Homo sapiens: one gene and its partners. The protein of the gene in region 3 purifies or fractionates together with the protein of the main gene of each other region. This does not show direct contact. Each region holds a gene or a part of one and is shown on either strand. Other genes may lie near its edges.

Region 1 (7,666 bases), on a different chromosome or scaffold from region 3:
AAACTGAGATGTTCCCAATCTGTTTGATAGAAGATTTAGGCACTCCTTGGCATCTCTGTATATCTAATAAGGATGAAATTATATCTCAAAAGTAGAAAAGATACTCTAAAACTACTTTTGAGGAAGGCATCTCTAGGTAAACTCAAGTCTGCATTTTATCTTGTCCTTTCTCTCTAGGGCCCTTGCTTGAAGAATAATCCATACTATACCTGTGCTTCCACTTCTCGGAGGTGGTAGAGGGGAGGCTGTCCTCTGGTCAGGAGAATCCTATTCAGTGCTCCCTTAGACATTCTTCCAGGCAGGATCAAACTCAAAGGAAAAGGAATTTGTGAAGCAAACCATGGCTTTGTCACAGTAAAGTAATTGTCACTCTCAACCCAGAATGTGTGAAGCTGCAAAAGAAGAGAAAAAACACTACAAGGATGTTCTTTTATTAAATGAAAGATCACTCAATCAACATGAGAGTTTTTCATAAATATCTTTATATGAAGTGTCTTCATACAAATTTTCCAGTTAGAATGACTCAGGATAAAACAAGATTATTTTAAATGTGTGAGTTTTGTTGACTGCTATCTTCCAAACACCCAGAACAAGGCCTGACACATAGCAGGTGTTCAATAAACATTTGTTGAATGAATGAATTACACCCAATTCTATACATGGAGCAAAAAGATCCATCTCCCACAAAGAATTTCCAACATGACATTTTATTTTACTTTGTTGTTTCACATACTAGTTGAATGCCTAACAGAATCCAGTTTCACAGTAATATGAAGGAATTAAGATTAACATATAAGTAAAATTTTCTCTTAAGACTTTTCTCATTGGTTTTTTTCTAAACAGACTATGTACATTTGCAACTAGGCTACTAAAATACTGTAATATTTAAGAACACTCACCACTGCAGGGAGAAGCTTCTCTTCGAGGAGAGCAATATAAGCCAATGTATCTGCCCCTTGTTTTGCTGAGAGTTCATAATCAGCATTATATTTCTATTAAAAAAAAATAAACCAAAGAAACTCAGAAGTCAAAGAGCAGCCCAAAGACAGTAAAACTAATCAAATCAGGATTCATATTTTTCCTTACAAATAGCAAACGTGGTATTAAAATGGGAGAAAGAGAAATACAAATCCAGTGAAACCTATTGCTTAATGCACATAAAGTTCTTAGCACAGCATCACATACACAATATGGTCAATAAATGTTACAATATTAACTACTATTATTTTCATGCTTGTTAATGACCTAGTTCAGTGCATGGCATGTAGTACAAACAAAGCAACTATTATTTTTAACAAGAAGGAAACAGTTCCAATTGGCTGTGTTTCTCCCCAAGACAAAAGAAAAAACCTTCCAATTTATAAAAGTTCAAAATGTTATTGACACAATTTTTTTAAGTACAGTATTGGCAAAACAAATAACTTATCCATTCATATAAATCTTTACATGTTTAAACATTTTGGATACATAATTCTCTACTGTTAAAACATTTAGATACATTATTCCATAAAACTGCTATTAAGAGCTTTTTAAAAATAATATAGTTGCTAGTTGGTGAGAGCTCAGGTGTCATGCCCAGCACAAAATGTGTACCAACTATGTGACAAAATACACAATCCTATCAATAAGTTTAATAGTGAAAATGGCTAATTAAATCTACTTACATACAAATTTCAATAAAATTCAAGCAAAGTTTATTAAAATATAAACTGACTACCTCTTCATATGACTTTCAAATCACAGAACTCATGCTTTAGAGCAGTGATTCTCAAATCTATTTTTACATCTTGTCCCAGGTATCTCCAATTGTCTAATGAGTTGGCAAAAAAAAATAAATAAATAAAATAAAGCCCAACATGCAGGGATCAACAATCTACCAATCTACTTCTTCAAAGTGAACCACCCACCTGTTTTCTTAAAAAGTTTAGTATTTTTGCTGGCTGAGAAACCATGTCGTCTTCAGTTGTCAAAATTGGTACATCGCCTATAATCAAAAAACAGTTTACATACAAGGACACAGTGTGATTTCCTCTGAGAGATTCCAATATCCTAAAAACTATAGCAGTTGCACATTTAGAGGGGAAAAAATGAGTAAGCTTGTCTTGGTTTTTTTGCTGTTTCACAAAGAGCGGTTCTAAAGAACATTTTCGTTTCTCATAATTTCCAGTGATTTCGCTTGCACTTTGAGGTATTACTCAGAATGATCAAACCATAAACAACACAGAGCCAAGGTCACGGTAAGAAACTAAATCCTCAATATTATAGCTATATACCTCACAGCTTTAAATGGAAGAAGAAAAAAAAGAGTGCAGAAAGGGGAGTGTAAAGGTTTACACTATACCTCTTGAACCTCTCCAGGTGTTATCTATCACATTGACTTTCAAGGGTGCACCAGAAAATTTGGCATAAGCCTGAAACAGAGTTTGCAATCAAACATTTTAGACCAAGTGCGTAATGCAAAGCTGCAGAGCAGCTTTACTTCACAGCCCCATCCCCCAAAGGCAGAAGGCGACTGATACTGAGGCCGCATCCCTCCCCGTGATCTCAAGTAGGGACGCGGGCGCCAGCCACCCGGCTTTCGAGGACTTTGCTCCCCAAAAGGTCCTGGGGATGCAGAGTAGGGAGGGCGCGCCCCTTGCTTCGGGGTTTCACTCCACCGCCCAGACAGCTTTGTGAGGCGGACAAAACTCGGAGCCAAGCGGAGAAGCCTTGATGTCGCCGCCGGCCTTCGGCGGGGGTATCGGCCAGGTTGGGACTCGTCGGTGGGAGGGAGCCCAGGGCAATGCAGCGTGCAGCGGCTCGGCCCTCCTGGACCCCGCAGCGCAGCGGGAAACTGGGGCAAGTCAGCCTGGCGCCTCCAGCCCCGCCCCTTCCTCCTGCGCCCTGGCCCGCGAGGCGGCCTCACCATCACCACCAGGGACTCGCTGTGAACCGATGGGAGTCCCCAGCCGCCTCCCCAGCAACTGAGTTCCAAGGGGGCCGCCATCTTGCGCGGGCCGACCTTTACTATCCCGGAAGTACTTTTCCTCCTAATTTCCGGCACGTGAAACGCGGGGGCGTGGCTAAGGGAGGGAAGGGTAATTTGGGGGCTCTTGAGAGATGAGAGAAACAACGACTGGAGGGATTAAGAAGAACTCTTAGGAGCAGCTTGGCCTAAAGGGTAAGAGTTGTGTGCCTTAAGTCAGACCCACCAGTAATTCTTCAAATATTAATATTTATTAGATCCCTAGAGTGTTCCAAACCCTTTGAACATTAAATCTGTGTGATGCCTAAATTAACCTGTTTGTAAAACAGGGATGACCCAGTATTTACAAGATTGTGGTATTTACAATGTCGGAGAGAAAGAACTTGGCACACAGGAGGCACTCAGTAATTGTTCAACCCCTTCTCCCATGTATGTGGCCTCTGCCTGCCTTTCCAGCCTCAACCTGTTCTCACCCTCATGTTCACTGGCACAACCCTGCTTAAAAGTTACAGTATTTCTGAACGTCAGGTAAATTGTGCCCACCTTCAGTGCTGGTCCTTCAATCTGGAATATCTTTCTTCCCTATGCAGCTGCTCCCTCAAAAATGAGCTTAACTCACCTTCCCTGTGATGTTTTTACAAAGTTAGGAGCTCTGGGTTCTTGTAGCCCCTTGTGCATATTTGAATTGTAGCTTCTCTCCCTAGCTACAGACCTTTTGCCTTTCACAGAAGAGGGCTAGCTTCATAGGTTTGGGACCTGTGCAGCCACACAAGGCTCTGTGCTTAAAAAGGCTCCTCATTTGGCTGATGCTCTTCCGTCACTGTCTTGAAATTCTTAAGTTTTGAACAAGGGGCTCTGCATTTTTATTTTGGACTGGGCCCCTCAAATCATGTAGCTCGTCATGTCTGTGGGCCTAATGAGCACAGACTAAATGTTTCTTGACGTTAAACCTGACAGTTTCTCAGAAAAACTATTAAAGAGGAAATTTTGGTCTTGGAAATGCTATGATCCAAACATATGACTGGGTCTCAGAGTTAGAACTTGGGTGCTGGGTCTTTTTTCTAGAAGGCACAGTAGTCTTTCTGGGACACCCTCGCAGTCATGCCTCTGAGTTCTTTCCTCTATTCCACTGAGATGGTCGGATCTTCTTAACTAAAACTCAAAAGAAACCTCTGCAACTTTTCGTAAAATTACTATTCAACAAATATTTGCTAGGCACTCCCTTACTGTTTACATAATCATTCAAATTACAGTGCCAGCCTGCTAAAGTCTTTTTTACATGTTTCAAAACCAAGAGTTCTAAGAAATGAAAAAGAGATATGTCAGAAATGAGAATTCATTAATAATAACTGTATAATTGGAAAATGCATAACATATGTACCATTAAAACTGTCGAAACATTTATTGAGCAGCTCCTATGTCTTAGACATCATAAGGTTCTGGAACAATACAGAAATATATAAAACATGAATTCTGTCCTCGGGAGTTTACAGTGCACAAAGGAGATATACACACACCAAGGTGTAACAAGTCAGATAATCACGAGTAGGGTTAGAAATATAAGCAAAATACTACAGAAACACAAAGGAGGGACAGTGCATCCTCTGTGTGATCAGTGGAGACTATCTGTTGAGTCTTCAGTATAAAGAAAGTAAAGTAATTCAACTTTCAGATTGTAATGGAACCTCCCTGTTTTGAGGGTTAGAAATGTCAAACCATAGACTGACAAAGGCAAGGCAGGGGGAAAGAAAATCCTAAGCCATAAAGCTGAGGGTCCATATACTACATTCAGGCATTTAAAACAATCATACAGAAAGAATGTGGATTTCCTGAGCCTTGTTTGTAGCAGGACTGAGAGGAGTGAATGAACATTCTTAGTGGACACATAACACAGTTACTCAGTTTGGCCTTCTTCCGTACTGCTGCTACTACATACAGTGATTTCATTTGCATTAAAGAGAAATTAAATCTCTTCCCTTAGTGTTGAATTGAGACAGAATAGCATGTCATTGCATCTGATGAAAGAATCCTTACACACAGGTTTATTAGTGCATAGATAATAGCAATCTTTTATTGCTGCAGTTCCTCTTGAGAGTCTGTATCTGTTAGATTGAATTTAAAAAACTCTAACATAGCTGATTGCACAAACAGGCTGAATACTGTTCCAGAGAACCACACAGAAAATTGAAGCCTTCAGAAATTATGCCTGGTATGGTTAGTTGGCTCCTGTGCCTTTTCCTGGCTGTTTTAGAGTATTGTTCAGAGTTCATCTAAATCATAACTTCAGATTCCTACCGGGAAGAATACTGTCTGCAAAACATCCATGTTTGTGTGGGATGGCCTGAATCACAGCTTTATAATGAGTATCCCAGACAGTGTTTTCCCCAAAAAAGAAATCTTATTTTTCAAAAGATGATCATTAAGAATGGTTTCATCTGGTGATAGTCATCTGAACTCAGGCAACCTGACCTTGGCATCCATACCCATCCTTCATGTGTTTCTTAACTTGGGAGCCACAGTGCAAGGTTTGTTAGGCTCTTTTTGTCTGGGTGATTAAGAATCTGGGAAATGGTGCTGTTGGGAAAGATGAAAGGTTTGTGACAAATGATGGTACAGTATATGGTCCCTTATGGGAAAATTAAATTGTAAAGTCTTAAATATCCCTTTGAACTTGAAGATTCTGTAATTTGTGTTCAGATATAAAATCCTTAAGGAGGGGAAAGAACAAACACTGAATAGAAAAAAGGAGAGCTGAGTTCTTGACTTGGCCTCTGATTAGCCATATGCGCTTGGGCCAATCATTTTACATTGATACCTCTGCTCATTCATTTATAAAGCAAAAGTTCTTTTATCTCTGAGATGCTATCATTTTATGTGTAATGAACATTTAATAATTTCTGACATTTATGGAGCAATTTCTACATGCCAGAAGTTGTTTCAAGTATCTAACATAACTTGCTTTATCTCCATAATGATTTCATGACACAGGTACCTTCCTAAGGTTAACTAACATCTTTGTGTCCCTCCTTGAAAATAGAAGAAAATATCAGTACCCATATAGCCAGTAGGTGGTAGAACCAAGATTTGAACCCAGGCAGTTTTGGCTTCAGAGTTTATACTCTTAACCACTGTGTCATACTGCCTCATGTAGCCTCCTGTGTAGTCCATTAAAAAGCCCAGTTTCACCCAAAGTGGAGATATCAATGCCATGATATTATTGTTATTATTTATGTAAATAATATTTGTTTAGTATTACACCATTAAACGAATTCATTAAGCAGCTTCTGTATGCCTAGCACACTGCAAGCCTGTCAGGGAATAAAAATTTATGTTCGCCTGTAATCCTAGCACTTTGGGAGGGAGGATCACTTGAACCCAGGAGTTCAAGACAAGCTTGGACAACATGATGAAACCTTGTCTCAACAGAAACACAAAAATTATAGCTGGGCATGATGGTGTGTGCCTATAGTCTCAGCTACTTGGGAGGCTGAGGCGGGAGGATGGCTTGAGCCCAGGAGGAGAAGATTGCAGTGAGCCGTGATTGTGCAAAAACTTATGTTCAAGCTTTTAGAGGCACAGTTGATGAAACAAGGCCCACATATTTGAACTAACTAGAGACTATTAGGAAGTACCATTTTGTCAAGAAGACAAGTCTAGTATGGTTTTAGACAAAGGCTTGAATGTACTGCAATGCTTGGCAAAGGCCTAATGAAAGAAGATGATAGCTGATCTCGAAGGGTGGGTACGTTGCATTTAGATTGGCACAGAGTAAGGCATTGCATATGGGCTGTGCTATATAAGTGAAGGCATAGAAACAGGACTGACTATGGCAAGGAATCTGAAGATGAGTAAACGAATGCTGGGTTTGGTTATAAGCTGGAGACTGCTCAGGGAGAGTATTGGTTGACTAACTTGAGAACCAGAATTGGAAGGCATGGGAATTTATAGTTTTGAGAAAGTAAAGACAAGTAAAAGTCCAAATACAATATTAGTGGATTTACATAGTCAAGGATGGGAGGTAGACAGCTATTGTTACATGGACATTATAAGAAGAAGCATTTTATAAACCCATAAACTATATTAAATAAAGTAAAAGTGTGGTGGAAAATGCTGCTGAATATTATTGGAGGAAGGTCACTTGGCACCCTTCCGCTGAGCATTTTTGATAGAGGAGGTTGTTAGAAATCCAGTGGCAAGGGATTACTGGAGAAAAGGGTATAAACGATAAGGACAGGTCTAAGAGCATGAGGAATATGACTGATAAAGGAAGAAGAGAAATGGGACAGGACTGAAAGACTCAAAGTTTTTGAAAGAGACGACATGGTGAATCTACACACATATGAGGACAAAATTGGCTATTATGAGTAAAAGTCTGAAGATGCTGGAGAGAAGAAGGATGGGATCCTAGAAATTGCCCTAAGAGTTGAGGCTGAGATCCGGAGCTTGAGCAGCGGGGCTGGCAGGCATTGAAAATGAGAGACATGCTCTCTTTCTGACACTGGAGGAAGTTTCAAGGGGAACTATGGGATGCTGAGTAGATAAATCAGTTACCTTCAAATTTCCCTATTACATTAGAAAAAAAATAAAAGTGCCTGAGAGAAAGAGATTGGGGCTTTAAAAAGACAGCTGGGCACAGTGGCTCACACCTGTAATCCCAGAATTTTGGGAGGCCAAGGCAGGCAGACCACTTGAGGATCACTT
Region 2 (7,498 bases), on a different chromosome or scaffold from region 3:
AGTATTAAATAGTGGTGCCTTTAGGAGGCAATTAAGACATGAGGGCTTGGCCAGGTGTGGTAGCTCACGCCTGTAATCCCAGTACTTTGGGAGGCTGAGACAGGTGGATCACCTGAGGTCAGGAGTTCAAGATCAGCCTGGCTAACATGGCAAAACCGCATCTCTACTAAAAATACTAAAATTACTCAGGCGTGGTGGCACACGCCTGTAATCCCAGCTACTAGGGAGGCTGAGGCAGGAGAATTGCTTGAATTTGGCGGGGGTGGGGGCGGCCAGGGATGGCGGTTGCAGTGAACTGAGATTACGACACTGCACTCCAGCCTGGGCAATATAGAGCGAGACTCTGTCTCAAAAGAAAAGAAACAGGCATGAGAGCTCTGCCCTCATGCATGGGATTCGTGTCCTTATAAAAGAGGCTTGAGGGAGCCAGTTGACCCTTCTACCATGTGAGGAAGCAGTGAGAAGATGCCATCTTTGAAGCAGGGAGCAAGCCCTCACCGGACACCAAATCTGCTGGTGCCTTGGTCCTGGATTTCCCAGCCTCCAGAACTGTGAGCAATAAATTTCTATTGTTTATAAATTATCCAGTCTAAGGTATTTTGTTATAGCAGCCCAAGCAGACTAAGACAGTGTTCACAGGTCACACTTTAAGCAACATGGATTTTGATGCTACTAAAGACCACCATTTTCAAATACTTTTTCTTTCTTTTGGACAATTATACAATCATATTGGTTATGCAATGAACAGACTTGATTAGACTAATGTAACACCGACCGCCTGAATATTTGCTCACGGGGGTCTGTATGCTTTATTCTGTGCACACAATCCCGTTTTTCCTTGAGTCTCCTCCATAAAGCAGAGCCCGGGGTAGGCCTCAGGGCTATATGTAGCTAGACTTTCTGGAGTATGACTAAGTGTCTGTACCGGACTAACACAGTAACAACTACTAGGTAACTGCAATTTAATTGCTCAAATCAGAACTAACTTCTAAAACATGTTTCTTCCCTTATAGTCATAGACTAAATTCTAGCCTAACTAGTGACAGATACAAGCTGTAATAATGTGTTATCTGTGTCTTAGCCTCCTAGGTGAAAATTTTTTCTTCCTTTATTTTTATCCCTATGGTTGAAGAAAGTAGCAGAGACCAACTGAATGAAGGTAAAAACCACTGGCTTTCTTAGGAAGAACTGTAGAGCAAAACAAAATTCATTTCTGGAGAGGAATAATTCCTACTTGAACGAATGGAAAAATAAAATCGTAGAATTAAAAAAAATAAACACATTGTAGAATAAAAACAACTTTGGTAATAAATTCAGATCCTAATCGTAAAAATTCATTTTTTAAGTAGCTCAATTATATAAATGACTCACTTATATAACCAAGGAGCTATATCATGGAGCATTTTTAAAGGTTTTTGTTTTTACACTAGGGTAAGCATTTCCCAAGTTTGTCTGTAACATGTGGCTTTTTCAAAATAAAAGAAAATGAGAAAATTCTCCCTACTGTCTCAATTAACGTAATTATGAATTAAGGAAGACCTAATTGATAGGGTTTTACTCTCTAGGTGCATAAATATATGGTGAAATACTCATTAAAATAATTACTAGACAGAAGTGCTCAGCTCCCTGTACCTTCTGAGATCCTCCCACCAGTAAAGGGAGGACGACAGAGTGGTAGCGCTTTCCTGTTAGTGTGCCAAAGAGAGGGGACACTGGTCACCAGGATAATCTAATGAAAATACCTCTGGGCTAATCGTCAAGAGATAGGGATTAAGTTAAGGTTCCAAAATGGTGAATACTATCCCCACCCCTTATGTCCAACCTCATCCCTCCCCGCCGAGCTTTCACTTTTCTCCCGGGAATTGCGGATGTGCAGTCTACTGCAGCAGCCCTGCGGGGAGGAATGGAGGAAGGGAAGGGGACGGCTGCAGGGTGTGTCACTTACGAGATGTAGGCTGGGTAGCCAAATCCTATCAGGTTGCAGAGGAGAGAGGCTCCATAACCGAACACCAGGTACAAGGCCACCAGTCCGATGACACCTGGGGACCACAAGGAGAGAAGTGGGTCGGGCAGCATGAGAGCCGTTCACGCGGGACAGCCGCCGCCCACACCGCGAGGCTGGGCCTGTTGTAGGAGTTTTCCTCTCGACTCGATTAAAGGAGCGAGAAAAACAAACCACACGAAAGCTGGGCCTGCGCGTCCGCTGGGCTATGCCTTGAAGTCTGGGGATACCAGGCAGCCCCACCATTGTGCCTCTCCTACCTCCCGCAGGGGGCCCCGGCGCTTTGCGCAGCAACCCCCGGCGCCCGGGACGGTCCCAGGCACCCGCTTCCGCCCTCTCGCAGGGCCTGCTGGGCAGCGCTCCAGCCTGGGAAGCTGCGCTCAGCGGGGAGCGTCCCGAGAGGCCCGGACTCCCGCACACGCTGCAGTAGCAGCCCCCGCCCACCCGAGAGGCGCCCTCTCCGGGCGGAGCTCCACGGAGGGTCGGGTAGGACCGGGTACCTCCGTCAACGCGCCCGCCCGCAGGGGCCCCGCCGTCCGCGCCCACCGCGCAGGACAGCAGGAATAGGGCGCCGGGCCGCGGGGCAGACATACGTCAGCGCTGGCCCTTCCAGCTGCCAGCGCCCGGCGCCGCAGCTGCCCTCCAGCCCCGCGACCCTCAGCCTGGGCAGCCCCCGCGGGGTCCTCCGATGCCCACGCTTTCCGGGAGGCCAGCCTGATCCCTGAATATGCTGCTTGTCCCGTCTGTCTCCGACTCCACCTTTCCCGAGTCCTCTCCCTGCTTCCTTCCCCAGCAGCTGGGGCAGCGGCGGCTCCCGTGGCCCTACCAGCGGCGGCGACCCCCGGCCACCCACCAAGAGCGATGAAGCTCCTGTTCACGCCGGTTTTGGCCTCGAGCTTGGCCAGAAGGTCAGTCATGCAGTTCTTCTCGTGCAGGAACCGGTCGAACCTCTCCCTCATGGCCGCAGACATGGCGGGGACCGTCTCGCCGCTCGGGGCTGTTCCTAGTGCCGGATAGACTGGAGCGGCGACTGCGGCGGAGCAGCGGCAGGCGGGGACCGCGGCGCGTCTACGCGTCCTCCACTCGCCTCCGCTCGCCCCGCCCGGCCGCCGCGCGCCCCTCCTCGGCCGCCGCGCGCCCCTCCTCCCCCGCCCAGCGCCAGGGGGACAGCGCCACACCCTGGCGGGGGCGGGCCTGCAACTCCGCGGACGCTGCGAGGTGGCCTGCCTGTTGACAGTCTTAACCCATTGCGGGGTAAAAAGGATGTGGCGTGGGGGCGTGCATTTTGTGTCTCTCGTGGGTCCCCTTCTCAAATCGGACTATTGCAAAAAGCAGGCAGAAAGGAGGCAGGCGTCCTTGTTGCTCCCGCCTGCAATTCACTGCGATGAGTTTGGCACCTACATTGCTGTGCTAAACCTAAGGCATTTTTGACCTAAAAAATTGAAATGTTTGAGCATCGTGAAAGAACTCTTTGGAAGCAGTCCTGCTTTCTCCCTCTTTGCCTTAACTTGGCAGTTTTTCTCACCTACAGACAATCGTTGCCTTGTAAAGACCCTTGAAGAAATCTAACACATCCTCCCTGGGGTACACCTTTTCCAAGCAAAAACTGCATTAAATCTTTTCATGGTGGGCTTGCGTTGTCTTGGTGTCTGATACTGTGGCAAGTGTCCAAATTCTCTCTGTGGAGCCAATATACTCTGCACTTCCTACAGTCAAAATACTCTGAAGAAGACGGAGATTCTAAGGTCCAAGCCTTAGGGCAGGAGCTCATTTTTGCTTCCTTCAGAATGAGTTGGCCATGCTCTTCCTCCACCTAAACCTAGGCTCCTCTTATCTCACCCATATGACTTCCAGACACTCCTAAAATTACTCTTGTTGACTCCTATTCTGCACACTGCTGCAGAATTTTTGTCCGAAGCTCCGTATTATTATCCTAACAGACTAGAGCTCCCATTCCTTGGCAGAGCATTCAATGCCCTGCCCACAACTGGCCCCGAACATTCTGTCTTGGTCCTACACAACCCCTCTGTGCTTTCAAATCTACTTAATTACCCTACTGCCTTCCACTTCTGCAAAAAGTTATCTTGCCCACGCCTAGCTTTTTCCTTTTATGCTAATTCTCCTTCCTCCTTTCTTCCTCAGAGCTTCTTAGCTCAGCTTTCTCAGCTGTTCCTACCACCACCCAGCCAAATCAGTGAACAAGTGAAACAACCTGCTGTCTACTTCTGTCTTTTCACCTACAGTTAATTCTCAATGTGGCAGACAGTAGAATCTGTTTTAAAATGTGCGTCAAGTTGTGCTATGTTTTTGTTCTCAACCCTCCAGCAACTTCCTATCTGCCTGAAGGAGGGCATCAGGGTCACAGGTGACATGGTTCATCCCTCCCCTTTCTGATGTCTTCCCTTACTGCCTCCCTCCTTGCTGTGCCTCAGACAAGGTAAGCCCATTCCTGCCTCTGGGCGTTCGTTCACTTTTCTTCTATTTCAGTGGTTCTCAACCAGGAGCACTTCCTCTCCCCTTCTTCCTCCTGGGGGGAGGAGTAGCAATGTCTAGAGATACTTTCGTTGTGAAACAGATTGTCACACAAGGAGAGCAGGAGGTGGCAAGTGCAACTAGCATCTAGTGGTTAGAGACTAGGGGTGCTGCTAAACATCCTGTAACACACAGGACAGCCCCCACAACAAAGAATTATCCAGCCCCAAATGTCAATAATGTGACAGTCCAGAAACCCTCCTCTATCTGAAAGTATCTTTCCCCAGTTAACCATTTAACTGTCCCCTTCCATTATTCAGATATTTGTTCAAATGGTACCCCTAATCTCAAATTGCAACCCCCAGTGGTCTCTAGCTTGATTTTTCTCCATAGAATTTATTACTGTCTGGCATTATGTTCTACTTTTTTTTTTTTTTTTTTGAGACTGTCTCACTCTGTCACGCAGGCTGGAGTACAGAGGCGTGGTCACAGCTCACCGCAGCCTCGACCTCCTGCTGTGCTCAAGCCATCCTCCCACCTCAGCCTCCCAAGTAGCTGGGACCATAGCCGTGTGCCACCATGTCCGGCTAATTTTTTCTGTTTTTAGTATAGATGGGGTTTCACTATGTTACCCAGGCCAGTCTTGAACTCTGTGATCTGCCCACCTTGGCCTCCCAAAGTTCTGGGATTACAGGTATGAGCCACCACCATGCCAGACCATGTTCTATTTTTAAATTATCTTTCTTTCCTCACTAGATTATGAGCTCCGTGAGGGTAGACATTTTTGCTTATTTTATTTGCTTCAATATTTTAAGCACATTGAACAGTGCCTGGCACTTAGTAGTTGTTCAATAACTATTTGTTGAATTAATGAATGAATGAATATCTAACATGTGTTGTACCACCCAGTATTCCAAGTGTTACGTGGACTAGTTCATTTAATCCTCACAGCTGCATGAGGAAGATGCTACCTGTTTCATCCTCATTTAAGGAAAAAAAAAATGAGACATAGTGAGTTCCCATATCACAATAAGTGGCAGAGCTAGAATTCAGAATCAGGCTCTTACCCCTATATTACATTGCTATTATGGGTTGAATTGTATTCTACCTCCCTAAAGAAGACATGTTGGAATCCTAACCTACAGTACCTCAGAGTGTGATCTTATTTGGTAATAGGGTCTTCAAAGAGGTAGTCAAATTCAAATGAACTCCTTAGGGTGGACCTCAATCCAGTGTGACTGTTGTCCTTATAAAATGGGAAATTTGGCCAGGCGCGGTGGCTCACACCTGTAATCCTAGCACTTTGGAGGCCGAGGCAGGTGGATTACGAGGTCAGGAGATCGAGACTATCCTTGCTAACACGGTGAAACCCCATTTCTACTAAAAATACAAAAAATTAGCCGGGCGTGGTGGCGTGCACCTGTTGTCCCAGATACTCAAGAGGCTGAGGCAGGAGAATGGTGTGAACCCAGAAGGCAGAGCTTGCAGTGAGCCGAGATCAAGCCAATGCACTCCGGCCTGGGCAACAGAGCGAGACTCTGTCTCAAAAAAAAAAGGGGGGGTGAAATTTGGACGGAGACAGATGCATATAAAGGGAAGACTGTGAAGAAACACAGGGAGAAGATGGCCATCTACAAGCCAAGAAGAAAGTCCTGGAACAGATCATTCCCTCACAACCCTCACAAGGAACCAATCCTGCTGAGACCTTGATCTTGGACTTCCAGCCTCCAGAGCTGTGAGATAATAAATTTCTGTTTTATTTATTTATTTAGAGACAGGGTCTCACTGGGTCACCCAGGCTGGACTGCAGTGACACAATCTCCACTCACTGCAACCTCCACCTCCCAGGTTCAGGCAATTCTTCCACCTCAGCCTCCCAAGTAGCTGGGGCTACAGGTGTGTGCCACCATGCCAAGCTAATTTTTTTTTTTTTTGTAGAGATGGGGTTTCACCACACTGGCCAAACTGGTCTCAAACTCCTGACCTCAAGTGATCTCCCCATCTTGGCCTCCCAAAGTGCTGGGACTGCAGGCATGAGCCACTGCACCTGGCCTCAATTTCTATTATTTAAGCTACCCAGTTTGTGAGACTGTTACAGCAGCCCTAGGAAACTAGTACAGCTGCTTAGCAGAATAACTGAACTGTAAACTTCAAACCAGTTGTGAGTTTGTATAATTTCCTACTGAGTACAGTATGTATATTAAGTTGGGGTTGTTTTTGAATACTTAAAGTGATTCATAATTTGATTTTTTTTTTTTTTTTGAGATGGAGTCTGCCTCTGTCACCCAGACTGGAGTCCAGTGGCATGATCTTGGCTCACCGCAACCTCAGCCTCCCAGGTTCAAATGATTCTCGTGCATCAGCCTCCTGAGTAACTGGGACTACAGGTGCACACCACCACGCCTGGCTAATTTTTGTATTTTTTTGTAGAGATGGGGTTTCACCATGTTGGCCAGGCTGGTCTTGAACTCCTGACCTCAAGTGATCTGCCTGCCTCAGCCTCCCAAAGTGCTGGGATTACAGGTGGCCACAGTGCCGGTCCTGATTTTTTTTTTTTTTTTTTTTTTTTTTTAGACAAGGTTTGACTGTATCACCCAGGCTGAAGTGCAGTGCACAATGTTGGCTCACTGACCTCCACCTCCTGGGCTTACGCCATCCTCCCACCTCAGCCTTCCAAGTAGCTGGGACTACAGGTGTGCACCACCACACCCAGCTAATTCTTGTACTTTTTTGTAGAGATGGAGTTTTGCCATGTTGCCCAGGCTGGCCTCAAACTTGTGAGCTCAAGTGATCCGCCCATCTCAGCCTCCCAAAGTGCTAGGATTACAGGCATGAGCCGCTACACCCAGCCTCACAATTTGATTGTTTTATTTATTATTTATTTATTTTAGCAAAGGAGCAAAATCCTTTTAAGTTAGGTATCCAAATCAACCTAGGTTTTTGTCACTACATTTCATGCAGTGGCAACATTTGTACTACATTAACTATGCATGGAATATCTAGAAACATATTGTTCATTTGCAT
Region 3 (7,020 bases):
TGCAGAAGAAAGAAGCTCAGTTTCCCAAATGGGCAAGGACCGCTACTGGTAGACAGATAGGTAAGTAAAAGAATCATTGGCCAGACGACCTGTATGGATTCAAAAAGAGTTGCAAGTATAGTTCTTGTCACAGGGAACTGTGATCATTTGGCATTCTTCTCACAGATCCTGCGGTAGCTGATGTCACATGATGCAGCATCAAATGTCTTTGTTAGGCCAATGGTCGCACAGTTGAAATTCTGATTCTGATTGGTAACACTAAATGAGAAAACAAAACAAAACAAAACAAACAAACAAAAAACAAAGCATGGTGATGGCCCATCATTTTAGCCCAGCCTCTTCCTGATTCCAGAGTGAGAGTCTTGCAGGAGTTTTGCCTGGAAGGGCAGCAGACTACCGGGCCCACACACGTCTCCATCTGCGTAGCCTCCTTTTTAGCTCAGATCCTTTTCCTAATCCAGCTCCGCAAATGCAGCTCTAAACCCACCCTTTCCTGTCAGCTCTCCTGTGAGCGTGTATGGATTCACAGTCTTGGACTAACTAACTCACTCTGGCATTTGGTTAGAAGCATCTCATGGGCTGTCTCTTCTTCCAAAAGTACTGTTTAGGATAGCATGCATGTTCACAGCAAGAGGACAGGAAGGAAAAGGAGAGAGGTTGTGCATCCCTTTCCAGACCATAGTGGCCTCAGAAAAACTTGGTGGAGGTATTTGTTGGCTCTCCCACCTCTTTTTCTGTCATTCAGTCTGTTTCAGTCTGACTGAAAAGGCTCTGGTTTCGGAGAAATGTCATGTGTTTGGGACTAGCTTTATGATATTTAACACATTTCTAAGCTTTACTTGTCCTCAGTTCAACTGTCTGTGAAATGGGGAGCGATAAAAGCTTTTCATGTAGCATCATGGGGAATATTTCAGGAAACAACATATGCAAAGTGTTTAGCATAGTGCTGGCATTAGCAGACACTGAATAAATGTCAATTTCCTCCTCTCTGTAGGGAAGCCCAGTTACAGGCTGGGGGACTGACTTGACCTCTGTCTGAATCACTATTTTTGTATAAACACTGGGAAGATTATTGATGTTCTCACCAATCCTCATCTCCATGGAACAATTCACAGGAGACAGCTCTTGGGGGTCAGAAGTTCATAGCTTTAAGACATAGACAAGTTGCTTATAATAACCTTTCTTAGATAAAGAAGGCATATCTGGGGAAACTTGTATGTACTTTGTAATAAAATGTGATCTGTGGGTTAAAAGACGAAGCCCTTTTGATCAGTCAGAAACACTAGTGTTATAGAAATAGATCTCATCTCTATACCAACTGGGTTGCCTCCATAAAACTGACCCTGTCTCCTAGAGATGGCTAGCATCCAGTCTAGACTCATATCTAGTCTGTTTGAAGTCAAGAGACTGAGCTTTTTTGATCAGTCAGAAATGCTCAGTGCTATGGAAACTAGCATCTATAGAGAGCTACAAGATACATCAAATGAATGCTATGTAGGTGGATTTGTTTGGATCTTGATATGAATAAAATAATTTGCTATATGAATACTCTTCTTTCTCCTTATGAAAGTTTGATCTCTTTCATAAGAAAACATTTATTAAAATGTGTCTCAGGGAATAGATGGGTTGGAAGAAAGGAGAAGAGCAGAACAGAGTCAAGTGTCAGCGTTTGAGCTATTCCAGGGTGAACCCAGCAATCTCAGGTTTGGTCTTTTGAAGCAAACCAAGATCCCCAGGAAACTGTGGCATGTTCACGTACTTGCCATTGAACACAGAGTTGTTGATCCAACGCCACCTTTTCTCTTCACGATGGTAAATTAAGCCAATAAAATACTTCTCAGCATCAGTTATGTCCTGAAGAAACTTCTGGAAATAAAAAAAAAATTTTACCAGTGAGTCTTTTAATGATGCCTCTCTTGAGCCAATGTGCCCATGATTATATCTGATCCTGGGAATAAGGAAGGCCGGTAGAGAACTCTGGGACCAGCTATAGCTGGGACTCACAACTAACCCTAAAGAAGTCATTGTCAAGATTCAGAGGGAATTTGGAAAACCTGAGGTCTTGTTAAAACACAGACTGCTGGGCTCCTGGTTAAGTAGGTCTAGTGAAGGGAACCAATAATTTACTTTTCTACAAAATGCCCAGGTGATACTGATGTTTCTGTCCAGGGACCACACTGTGAGAATGAAGGGGAAGGGGTACTGTACAATCTAAAACAGGGTCATTTAAAAAAATATGTCATGCTTCTATCCATAGGATTGTTTTTGTTGCCAGAAATTTTGTATGCTAAGTGAGGCTGAACCAAGTGCTAATAAAATGTGTTTCTATATATTGAGTACTTAGGAAAGGAAAACGGTGAGATTTAAAAGTGTATTGCTTTTAAAAGTGTAATCCAAGAAGAAATAAGCAAGTGCTTGTCAAATATTTGCTGATTTGACACTAGTCCTAGACATCTTTGTTCTGTAATTAATTGGTGAGTTACAAATCATTTCAGCCAGAAGTGTTTCCTATACTTGTCACATACGTCCCATAATCAGTGGGTATCCAAGTCTTATTCTTTCCATCCCCATGGCTATTTCCTTAGTTTCTCACTTTTCAATGTTCTCCTTTTCTGAAATATCTTATTTCATTACTTTTTAATTAATTACTGAATGTTCTCATTCACCAAACATCTCTCGAGTGTCTATTATATGCCATGCATTGTGTTAGGCTGAGGATGTGGAAACAAATATATTTCTCCTCAAAGAAATTATGATCAAGAGGGTTGGCAAACTACAACCAGTGGGCCAAATCCAGACTTCATCCTGTTTTGGTAAATGTTTTATTGGAATGCACCCATGCCCATTGTTTACACATTATCTACGGCTGCTTTCAAGTTACAACAGCAGAGACCAATGCCCTGAAAAGCTTAAAATGTATGTTATCTGACCCTTTTTTAAAAAAGTTTTCTGACCCATGGTCTAAAACCAGAATCCTTAATGCTGAACTCTCATGCTGGAAGCCATGGATGGTTTCCCAGGAAAACTATGAAACCACTGGAATGTTATGAAAAATATTTTGCTTATGTAATGTTTCTGGGAAGGGGTACATAGATTTTATCACCATTTTAAAAAAGTCAGTGGTCCCATCATGTTTGAAGAACCACAGGTTTAATGAGGGAAGACAACCAACTTAACTAGCATAAGGAGGTATCTCAGGTGTAGTACTAGGAAATTATATACTGGATCTGGAAGAGGCAGAAAGGAGGAAGCGATCATTCTACATAGATCTGAAGTTTTTCTAGAATGATAGATGAGGTGATACCTGAGATGAATTTTAGGAGATAGCTAAGTTTGTCAGACAAACTGTCAGGGAGAGTATGGACTTCCTGGAAGAGAGCATGGATTATAGGCAGGTGGGGAAGCAGCCTGGAGCTCTTGAGGAACTACGAGATGCTCAGCGTAGTTAGTGCAGAGGTGGCAGGGAGGTGGTTTGAGAGACAAGGCTGGAGCAAAGGCAGAGGCGGCACTGTGCAAGGCCTGATATGATGTAAGGTACATGGATGTGCTTTGGTCAAGGAATAGGCTGAGGTGGACATCCAGGCCAAAGTGACTCAGCGAGTTTAGGGAGCAGGCATATATATATATATATATATATATATATATATATATATATACTTGTTATATAACCTATTTGTGTAAGCTCATGCTTAGCTCAGAGCCACTATTGTTTGAAAAAGGTATAATTGACCTGCCGATGCTGTGCACGCAACTTGGCTTGGCTCAACGTGCCTTGACATGGTACAGGCTCTGGTGCCCAGAGAAAGAGAGAGAGAACCAAGGCTGTCCATCTTGCAGACTGATAGAGGGCAGCCAGGACATGGCTCAGCATGCATTCATGCCCAGAGGGAGAAAGAGTTAAGCTGCTGACCCTGAACGCTAAGGGAGAGCCGGCTGCGCAGCTGTGAATGGGAGCGGCTGGAGCAAGCAGCTGAGACAGACAGACAGAGAGTATGAGAAAGCTGCTGATGAAAGAGCTGCTGAATAAAACTACATTTCACCTGTGTATGGCCCCCTGAGTGTTCTTTCAGCTATCTGCCACCCACCCACTCCCCTAGGACCTTAGCATGGGCTGGAACCTGACCCTGAGTGTGACATTTGGCATGGTCATGAACCTGACATATGCCATGCTAGGAGAACTGGCGTTTAACCCACTTTAATTTGGAAAATGGTACAGTTTAGAGCCTTAGAGGTATTATAATGTCAGTTCTGAGGAGGATAGCTAGAAAGAGTGCAAAACTGGAGGCAAGGAGATGGATTAGAAGAATTCTGAAGAAATCCAGGTGAGAACTGAACTATTTGTTGTTGGCATAGAGAGAAAAGGACTTGTTTAACAAATAATTGAGGAAGAAAAGAGAAGGTAAAGTCCCAGAAAACTCTTAAGCCTTCAATCTTGGGTGACATGAGTACTCACCAGTATTTGGAATGCAACAGGAAGAGTGGGGGGGTCAAATATAATTGACTCAGTTTTGAACATAGTGAGTTTGTGGGCCTCTTGAAACATCGAAGTGGAATTTGGTATACTTGTTGGGAGGAGAAGGATGAGCTGGAGATACAGACTTGCGAGTCAGCAGCAAACCATTGCCATGATGACCTTTGTCTTTTTCTTTAACGTTTTTTTTTTTTTTTTTTTTTTTTTTTTTTGAGACAGAGCCTTGCTCTGTTGCCCAGGCTGGAGTGTAGTGGCACAGTCATGGCTCACTGCAGCCTCCGCCTCCTGGATTCAAGCAATTCTTGTGCCTCAGCCACTTAAGTAGCTGGGATTTCAGGCATGCACCACCTCACCTGGCTAATTGTTAGTAGAGACATGGTTTCACCATGTTGGCCAGGTTAGTAGTGATGACCTTTTTCATCACCAAGGAAAAGGTACATGGATGTGTTTTGGTCAAGCAAATTGGGATCCACAAAACTTAATGGGTGTGGCAGACTTGTCACACTTGCTTCTTCCCGTTGCCTTCCCTCCTTTCCTCTTTTCATTCCCCTGTCTTGCTCCTGTTTTTCTATCTTAAGACATTTTCCCTTGCTACCTGGGTACTTAGCCCTAGAGGGTTTGTAGCATCCAGATCCCTTGGTCATCTATTACCAAGATTCAGAAAGGAGAAGTTCTTACAAATTCTTCTAAATCACAGGAGGACTTTCTAGAGGAGGAATAAAGGGATAGAAGCGAGAGAAGCAAGAGTATAGTGTATGTAGCACAGATTAGAGTATGGGTTTTGGAGTCAGAGAGTTCTGAATTCAATTCCACGTTCTGTTATTTGACCTTGGGCAAATTACTTTTCTGTGCCCTAGTTGCCATTTATAAAATGTGGATAATAATACATCCTCATTATTATTATCATGATCATCAACTGCAAATTCAGTATGACCTGATTCTTACTTTTTCACACTACTAATTTTGTCAGTTCACGTCTTCCTTGTTTACTATGCAGACTGGGATGGTACATTGACATCACATCTATAAGGTATTCTTTTTGTTGTTAAACAACTTTTATACACATCATCTCATTTGGTCATTTGCTTCACTTTAAATGTCTTGGCCCATCCCCAGGATATCAGCTAATTACAGTGCGCTATAGAAAAGACCACAAGGTGCGAATTTCTGTGGTTAAATGAAACTGGAAAATCATGCTGCTTCACTGCTACTAAGAAGAATCTCCTAACCTCCAGTCCAGAACAAATAGCTTCAGTTTTTCAGCCAGCCACCTCTCCATTCCTCACTCCATCCCATCCCCACTCCCCCAAGTTTCTACCCCATCCCACCCACTGAGGCTGTGTGGAGTGTGTGGCTTTACTGTACCATTCCAGTGTTCTCACCAGTTTCTCTGGCGTGTTGACAATTGCCAATGTGGATCCTTTTCCTTTGCAAAAGTCCCTGCTTTCATTCCAAGATGATTCAGAAGTGGATAAGAAAAAACATCTTGCTTGATAAAATTCCCAGTCTTTGGGGCAGACTGAAGAGGTCCAAGAAAGGAGAGTACGAGTTTACTGGTTTGGGTTATGAATCCTGCAACTAAGTCATGAAACAGTGATACATATTTTTGCTTTGTTTTAACAATTATATTGGTAAAAATTATTCTCCATCCAGGAAGAAATTCCACCCAGTCTAGTCTGGTTCCTTGACAATAATATAAGGAGAATAAGGAGAAGAGCGCAGTGGCTGAATAAAGTTTCCATTAGTCATCCCCCTACAGGAACACCAAATTTGACAACTATCTACACACAAAAAAGCACATATACATACATGAGAACAAAAAATCAGATGAACACTCAGTACCTGGATAGCTGAAAGAGGCACTGCAGAGGGTAGGAAAGATAGTCTTGAATTGCTGACACCACCCCCACCCTATCCCTGCTGCAGTGACAGCATGGCATGGTAAAGTGTATGTGCATGGGAGAGGGAGTGTGCAGGGATTGTGAGACTTTACATTGGACTCAGTGCTGCCCTGTCACAGTGGAGGGCAAAACGGACCAAACTCAGCTGATACCCACCCATGGAGGAAGCATTTAGATGAGCGCTAGCCGGAGGGGAATAACCCATCCCAGTGGTTGAAACCTGAGTTCTGGCAAGCCTCGCCACTGTGAGCTGAATTGCTTTGGGGCCCTAAATAAACTTGAAGGGTAGTCTAGGCCACAAGGACTGCAACTCCTAGGCAAGTCCTTGTGCTGAGCTGGGCTTTGAGCCAGTGGAATTAGGGGGCACCTACTGAGATACCAGCCAGGGTGGCCAAGGGAATGCTTGTGCCATTGCTCTCCCAACCCCAAGCAGCACAACTTGCAGCTCCAAAAGAGACCCTTTCTTTCTGCTTGAGGAGAGGAGAGGGAAGAGTAAAGAGTACTTTGTCTTGCATCTTGGATGCAAGCCACAGTAGAATAGGGCACTAGTCAGAGTCGTGAGGTCCCCATTCCAAACCCTAGTTCCTGAAAGACATTTGTAGAGACACCTAGACATACCCTGGGCCAAAAGTGAATCCTCTGTCTTGA

The links. The genes of interacting proteins can lie anywhere in the genome.
Region 1: the proteins of CLEC5A (region 3) and MTX3 purify together in Homo sapiens (affinity purification with mass spectrometry; 3 studies listed by BioGRID and IntAct, with this or other methods). This does not show direct contact.
Region 2: the proteins of CLEC5A (region 3) and REEP5 purify together in Homo sapiens (affinity purification with mass spectrometry; 3 studies listed by BioGRID and IntAct, with this or other methods). This does not show direct contact.

What each region holds. Positions count from the first base shown.
Region 1 is NC_000005.10:79,988,253-79,995,918, forward strand, and holds the start of MTX3 (metaxin-3), read right to left. Parts: upstream 3,011-7,666; 5' UTR 2,987-3,010; coding exon 2,906-2,986; intron 2,412-2,905; coding exon 2,342-2,411; intron 1,985-2,341; coding exon 1,908-1,984; intron 993-1,907; coding exon 900-992; intron 393-899; coding exon 210-392; intron 64-209; coding exon 1-63.
Region 2 is NC_000005.10:112,919,218-112,926,715, forward strand, and holds the start of REEP5 (receptor expression-enhancing protein 5), read right to left. Parts: upstream 3,011-7,498; 5' UTR 2,974-3,010; coding exon 2,856-2,973; intron 2,040-2,855; coding exon 1,946-2,039; intron 1-1,945. UniProt on the Homo sapiens protein: Plays an essential role in heart function and development by regulating the organization and function of the sarcoplasmic reticulum in cardiomyocytes.
Region 3 is NC_000007.14:141,929,961-141,936,980, forward strand, and holds part of CLEC5A (C-type lectin domain family 5 member A), read right to left. Parts: intron 5,991-7,020; coding exon 5,854-5,990; intron 1,890-5,853; exon of another isoform or gene 1,867-1,889; coding exon 1,760-1,866; exon of another isoform or gene 1,615-1,759; intron 259-1,614; coding exon 144-258; 3' UTR 1-143.